Linked DNA regions of Homo sapiens. The protein of the gene in region 1 purifies or fractionates together with the protein of each later gene. This does not show direct contact. Each region holds a gene or a part of one and is shown on either strand. Other genes may lie near its edges.

The links. Proteins that work in one complex are often made in the same cells at the same time.
Region 2: the proteins of DCAF13 (region 1) and DDX18 purify together in Homo sapiens (affinity purification with mass spectrometry; 2 studies listed by BioGRID, with this or other methods). This does not show direct contact.

What each region holds. Positions count from the first base shown.
Region 1 is NC_000008.11:103,418,262-103,422,014, reverse strand, and holds part of DCAF13 (DDB1- and CUL4-associated factor 13), read right to left. Parts: intron 1,752-3,753; coding exon 1,552-1,751; intron 1,041-1,551; coding exon 933-1,040; intron 1-932. UniProt on the Homo sapiens protein: Part of the small subunit (SSU) processome, first precursor of the small eukaryotic ribosomal subunit.
Region 2 is NC_000002.12:117,824,668-117,828,420, reverse strand, and holds part of DDX18 (ATP-dependent RNA helicase DDX18), read right to left. Parts: coding exon 3,713-3,753; intron 3,482-3,712; coding exon 3,320-3,481; intron 2,975-3,319; coding exon 2,822-2,974; intron 2,153-2,821; coding exon 2,039-2,152; intron 1-2,038. UniProt on the Homo sapiens protein: ATP-dependent RNA helicase that plays a role in the regulation of R-loop homeostasis in both endogenous R-loop-prone regions and at sites of DNA damage.

The DNA of each region.
Region 1 (3,753 bases):
ATTACTTAACTCAAAGCACAGCTCAGATTTTGTCGTTCCCCTTGTTTAAAAAGACTTTCAATGAACTTGAATTGGTATTTGTACACCAATGGTCACGGCAACACTATTCACAATAGCCAAAAGGTGGAAACAAATCAAATGCTCATTGATGAATGAACGGATAAACAAAATGTGACACATACAATGGAATGTTATTTAGCCATAAAAAGAAAGGAAATTCTGACATGTACTACAACATGGATAAACCTTGAAGACAATTATGTTAAGTAAAATAAGCCAGACCCAAAAGCCTTATTCCACATACACAAAATGGTATAATTCTTTAAAATATGCTTCTATTTATATGAGGTACCCAGAATAGTCAAAATCACAGAGGCAAAAAGTAAAATAGTAGTTACCAGGGGTTGGGGACTGAGGGGACAGAGGAGTTATTGTTTAATGACTATAGTTTCAGCTGGGGATGATGAAAAAGTTCTGAAGACAGATGGTGGTGATGGTTGCACAGTGATGTGAATGTACTGGATGCCACCAAACTGTATATTTAAAAACAGAGAGTAAATTTTACGTTCCGGATATCTTGCCACACACAGGCACAAAACTTCGATGATTCCTTATTATCTGACTAACAAAAGTACAAATTACTCATCTTAGCATCAAAAATCCTCCAGAGTAAGCCAAACTCTTTCTAGACTTACCTCTCATTAATTCCACTTTTGTGGTAAATTGAATATTAGTTTAATCATGTTAAGTTATGGGGAAGGCTGAATTATATAAAGAAAACTAGTAATTTTCAAGGTTTAATAAGCTATTTTGCATTGTGAAACTCCAAAAGGGCCTAGGAACAAATAAATGAACTTGAAAAAAAATGTATTCAATTAGATTATTCTTACCTATGTTGATCAAATTTAATGACTTAATGGTATTATACTTACAGTGAAAAAAGAAGTCCCACAAAAGCGAGTACATATTCCTCGTACAAAGCCTTCATGTGCTTGTATTGTACGGATACAATTCCGCTGAGTTAGATTCCAAATTCTAACCTATGATAAGGCATACCAGGAAATTTCAGTGAACTATAAATGTAAAATGTTCAGGATAAATTCAACACTGACAAGGCTACGAATCACTCTACTGGGCAGCTAAAACCAAAATCCTTTGGATTAAAACAATGCAATGCATATGGATAAGTATACTGATGAGCAAAAAATACAACCTGACAAATACTCTGTTGATTCTAAAGTGTTACAAAACTTTTTCACTTGCCATAGTAGGAAATTAGGTGTTGACAACATCTGTGAAAAAACTCATACTTAAATACTTTAATTATAAACATGATTATTTAATTTACTGTCAAATTGATCCTTAAACTACTGCATTTATAATTTCTTAGGTTTAAAGAAGAAAATACTAAACAGTATTCCTAACGAAATTTAGTCTTGAGAAGTAAATTGAAATCCAATAAAGTAAAACCTACAGTAACTAAAAACTAAAGGGAAAACATTTGTAATATAACTACTTTTAGTTGAAAATATCATCTAGATTGACACTTGCCTCTCCATCACACGCCCCAGAAAGGACAGTAGCCAGCTTCTCTGGATGCTTTGCCAAGCAATTGACTCCATCACGGTGACCATCCAGCGAAGCAAGGAATGGTTTTGCAAATACTCGTTCCAGTTTGGTAGCATTTAAAGCTCTTATATATTCTCGTGGGACCTCAAAAGGATGTAAAGCAGGATCATAGTTTCTTGGAACTGAAATAAGAATGATCCTTCTTAATAATTCACACTTAATATTTCCTGCAGTCTTCCTCAGCTAATCACTCTGTTATTCAATAAGCATTTAGTTAGTGACATTGTTCTATGCCTAACACTAAGAATACAAAAGTAGAAGACCTGTTGTTCAGAAATCTTTCTGAAATTACTGGAAAATCATGGGATGCATACATCTTGCAAAACAATTAGACCCTAGGTATATATACATGCAGCATTTCCTTTTTTTTTTTTTTTTGAGACGGAGTCTTGCTCCGTCACCAGGCTGGAGTGCAGTGGCGCAATCTCGGCTCACTGCAACCTCCGCTTCTCAGGTTCAAGCAATTCTCCTGCCTCAGCCACCCGAGTAGCTGGGATTACAGGCGCATGCCACCACGCCCAGCTAATTTTTCTATTTTTAGTAGAGATGGGGTTTCACCATATTGGTCAGGCTGGTCTCGATCTCGTGACCTCGTGATCCACACGCCTCAGCCTCCCAAAGTGCTGGGATTACAGGCATGAGCCACCGTGCCCGGCCTCCCTTTTATATGTCCTAGTACCCTCTTCAACTGGGTTGTAAGTGTTCACTGTCAGGGCTTCCAATACACTTTTCATTTGTACTTCCTTATGCCTAGCACAGTTTCTGGGACAAAATATGTGCAAGATGTTTGCTCAACAGAACTCTAAGCTTCCTGTAGGGCAGGGAACATTATTAATCTCTGGTGCTAAATACTGTGCTGATAGACACACGAAGTTGTGATTATGATGATATTATATAGCTATCATTTACTGAGCACTTTCTATGTTTGTTTACTTACTTAAAAAAGACTCACATAAGAGTTCAAGTGCCAGGCGCTGTTCCAAAAACCTTAACCGTTTAATCTCCACAGCATCCTATGTGTTAAGTTCTATTACTATCTCACACTTTATTGATGGGAAAACTGAGGCATAAAGAGGTTAAGTAACTCGAATACGACACGGTGGAGCCAGGATTCAAACCAAGGCAGTATGGCTCCAGAATCTATGTTTTAACTGTCCTGATACGCTGCTAAACACATTGTCTTGGTTAATAATCACGCTTAGGGCCGGGCGTGGTGGCTCACGCCTGTAATCCCAGCACTTTGGGGGGCCGGGACGGACGGATCACGAGGTCAGGAGATCGAGACCATCCTGGCTACCACAGTGAAATCCCATCTACTAAAAATACAAAAAGTTAGCCAGCGGTGGGGGTGGTATGTGCCTGCAGTCCCAGCTACTCAGGAGGCTGAGGCAAAAGAATCACTTGAACCTGGGAGGTGGAGGTTGCAGTGAGCCGAGATCGCGCCACTGCACTCCAGCCTGGCTGACAGAGTGTGACTTCATCTCAAAAAAAAAAAAAAAAAAAAAAAAAAAAAAAAAAATATATATATATATATATATATATATATATATATATATATATAATTATGCTTAGAAAGTAATTTTAAGCTCGTATGTCTAAAAAAACTCAGTGAGTAAAAAGTAAATGCATCTTCTTACCCCATGACTTCATCCTGCTGTTTCTTTCTGACTCCCTGGTAATGGTGTTATATCTAACATTCAACAAAGCTCTAGCCTAGGTCATTCTTATGTATTCCATCTTCCATATTCCCTACTACCAAAACTCAAAGTCCTACTCATCATCTCTTTGCAACACTTACTCATCTTTCAACTCTCTATTTCTAGTTTTTTGTGTTTTGTTTTTGTTTTTGTTTTGAGATGCGGTATCATTCTGTCACCCAAGCTGGAATGCAGTGATATGACTATAGCCTACTGCAGCCTCAACCTCCAGGGCTTAAGTGATCCTCCCACCTTAGCCTCTCACCTCAGCCTCCCAAGTAGCTTGGACCTGAGGCATGCACCACCATGCCCCATTAATCTTTAAATTTTTTGTAGAGACGGGGGTCTCCTTATGATGCCCAGGCTACTCTCGAACTCCTGGGCTCAAGAGATCCTCCCACCTTTGCCGCCCAAAGTGTTGGGTTTA
Region 2 (3,753 bases), on another chromosome or scaffold:
AGCTTGCCGTCTTGAGGGGGAGAAAGATAAGTAATGAAATGTCAACCTGTAGATTCTGGATATTAGCCCTTTGTCAGATAGGTAGATTGCAAAAATTTTCTCCCATTCTGTAGGTTGCCTGTTCACTCTGATGGTAGTTTCTTTTGCTGTGCAGAAGCTCTTTAATTAGATCCCATTTGTCAATTTTGGCTAGGACTAATATCCAGAATCTACTAAGAACTTAAACAAATTTACAAGAAAAAATCAAACAACCCAATCAAAAAGTGGGCGAAAGATATGAACACACACTTCTCAAAAGAAGACATTTAGGCAGCCAACAGACATGAAAATATGCTCATCATCACTGGCCATCAGAGAAATCCAAATAAAAATCACAGTGAGATACCATCTCACACCAGTTAAAATGGCGATCATTAAAAAGTCAGGAAACAACAGGTGCTGGAGGAGATGTGGAGAAACAGGAACACTTTTACACTGTTGGTGGGACTGTAAACTAGTTCATCCATTGTGGAAGACAGTGTGACGATTCCTCAAGGATCTAGACCTAGAAATACCATTTGACCCGGCCATCCCATTACTGGGTATATACCCAAAGGATTATAAATCATGCTGCTATAAAGACACATGCACATGTATGTTTATTCACAATAACAAAGACTTGGAACCAACCCAAATGCCCATCAATGACAGACTGGATTAAGAAAATGTGGCACATACACACCATGGAATACTATGCAGCCATAAAAAAGGATGAGTTCATGTCCTTTGTAGGGACATGGATGACACGGGAAACCATCATTCTGAGCAAACTATTGCAAGGACAGAAAACCAAACACCGCATGTTCTCACTCACAGGTGGGAAATGAACAATGAGAACACTTGGACACAGGGTGGTGAATATCACACACCGGGGCCTGTCGTGGGGTGGGGGGAGGGGGAAGGGATAGCATTAGGATATATACCTAACGTATATGACGAGTTTATGGGTGCAGCACACCAACATGGCACATGAATACATATGTAACAAACCTGCACATGGTGCACATGTACCCTAGAACTTAAAGTGTAATAATAATAAAAAAAGAAAGAAAGAAAGAAATGTCAACCTGATGAGCACCTGTGCTGTGGGAACAAGGAGGCAGGAGATCAGCGATGGCTTCCCAGCAAAGACAGAGGCGAGCTGAAACCAAGCATTCTGGACAAAGTGTGCAAAAGCTGTAGAGCAATTTCAGGGAACTGCCTGCAGTTACAGGGTAGAGGAAGCCTATCATCAAGACTATGCCAGAAAGGCCAATGAGGATGTAAATGTCAGGCAGGAGAAGGCCTGATATGCATCCCCCACATGGCCTAGCAATGAAGAGGCCACTTAGGGTCCTGATGGATTCAATTCTGGTGTGATAGTAGAAAGCTAAAGCCAAATTAGGCTGGTTAGGGACTGAGAGGGAGGTAAATGGCAAGAATATAAGCCATTTTTCCAGTAAGGCTGACTGAGGAAAGGCAACAGACAGTAGCTCCTGCAGGCAGGGGTAGAAGAACAGGTTTAAGGTTGAAGTTACTTTTTTACAGTGAGAAATTTGAGATGGTAAAGCGCCAACCGCAAGGAAGAGACTGTAGGCCAAGAGTTGATGAATAGGAGACAGAGGGCAGGGGAGGAGGCAGAGGCTAGAGCGAACAAGGATTCCCCACTGCTTCACATGAGGTAAGAGGAAAGAAGGGGAGCAGAAGCAGAGATGACTAGGTGTGAGGGAGCTTCAAAGGAGTGGAGAAGGTTTCAAAGAGGGCTGGAGGGAACAGGAAAGGAGAGGCTGGGACACAGAGGTGTTGCTGGGTAACAGAGCTAGAAAGCCGAGCCATGTGGGCAGTTCCTTCTGTGCTCACTTCTTGGGCTAGAAGTACATAAAACCTTACTTGCTTAATTGCCATAAGAATGGTTGTAACAGCACTGGCCAGACTCGAGACTCCTCTGACACATGTAGAAATGTTGCTTGCTAACAATCCCTACACCAAGAGAAATCTTTCTCCAAGTACAGATCTTTACCTTGGATTGTTTCAAGTAGCGAAGAAAACCCAATTCTTCTGGGCGCAAAATGAGCAAGGCATGCCCTCTCCCATTTAGGCCTCTGGCTGTTCTACCCACACGATGAATATATTCCTTTGGTGGAGAAAGAAAATCTGAGTTAACGCAGTGACTTCCACATGAGCCCATTTGCGTATCTGCATCCTGAGTATGTGCATGTCTGTACTGAGATGGTGTAGTCCCACGGTGCTGGGCCACACACACCTTCACCACACCCCCACAAAGCTGGGCCAGCAATCGCTCTGTGCACATCACCCCCAATAGGCCAATGATTGAGGCCCAAAAAAAAAAAAAAAAAAAAAAAAAAAAGGCTGGACATGATGTTTGCATTAACAGCGATCTAATAAAATGAGTATTATGTGTGCTTCATCATCAAAACGGCTTTAATCCAGTGTTTGTTGAAAATACTTCTCAATGAAGCTTATTCTACCACATATACTACAGAAGTTTATCTACTTCCTTAAGCAATTTTATTTCCTTCAGGCATCTGCTGTTCTTAAGAGATCATTCCAAGGATCTCATTTTCATAACTTAAGTCCCACTGATCCTTTTCAATCCTCTGGCACAGCCCGTTTGAGCCCTGAAAAGCCTTAAGTACTTTTCAATACCAGAGAAATACTGCAGTCACTGTATAGTAGGGATCTTTACCTTGAATGTGGAATGCAGTTTCCGTCAGGGAACTGGGAGAATAAGTGAACTTTTAATGCAGAGTCATTCTGAAGATATTCCAAAGATGCCAGTTACCTTAGGGTCATCCGGAGGGTCATACTGAACAATCCAGTCGACTTCAGGAATGTCTAGTCCTCTCGCTGCCACATCCGTACACAATAGTGTTCCCGAATCTGCATTGCAGAACTGGAAGAATGTGGTTGTACGCTTATTTTGCTTTTGCTTTCCCTAGAATTAAATAAAAACATCCATTAGAGCTGGAATCTTGAGGAAGACTAGCAGTAGAACCCCCAAATTGTGGAACTGTTACCCTATTTCGAGCTCATCCCTTGGCCTATGTCCTATTTCCCCAACTGTTCCGCAAGCCCCTCAAGGAGGATGGTGTCTTGCACTCTTCGAAAGTCCTCATACCCCTCCACACCCAGCAGCGCTCCCCCACACAGGATCCATCATCTAGTGGTGATCAAACTACTCAGAACAATGTTTCCAGGAGAGGGCAATACCTCCAATCCTACAATCTATAGGATTTAATAAGCATACCCTGTTTTCAATGAGCTCATCATCATCACTTACATGAATGGCCAAGACGGGCAAATCAATGTAGTTCAGCAACTCATAGTGGTATTTCACAGACATACAAGATGAAAAGAAGACCATAAGCTTCTTCTTTCGGTTCTTCTTAAGGAATGTAAAGAGCAGAAGGAATCTCTTTTCAGAAGGACAAACAACATATCCCTAGAAAGCGTTTAAGCAGACAGATACAAATGAACCAAGTGGACATTTTCCATTTCCTAACTTGTGTAATTTCATCAAGAGCACTGATAAACACAGTGTGTAAACTGTCATGCCTCACCTACAGCATTTTAAAAGTTCATTAACCCATTTGCTTTCTGAATGATCCTTCCAACAATTACATAAAAACACCAAGTAAGATCCCTACAGTTTTCAGTTATTGATAAAAAGTACCTGTTCAAGACCATCCACTGTTGCATTCGCTTTATCATCAT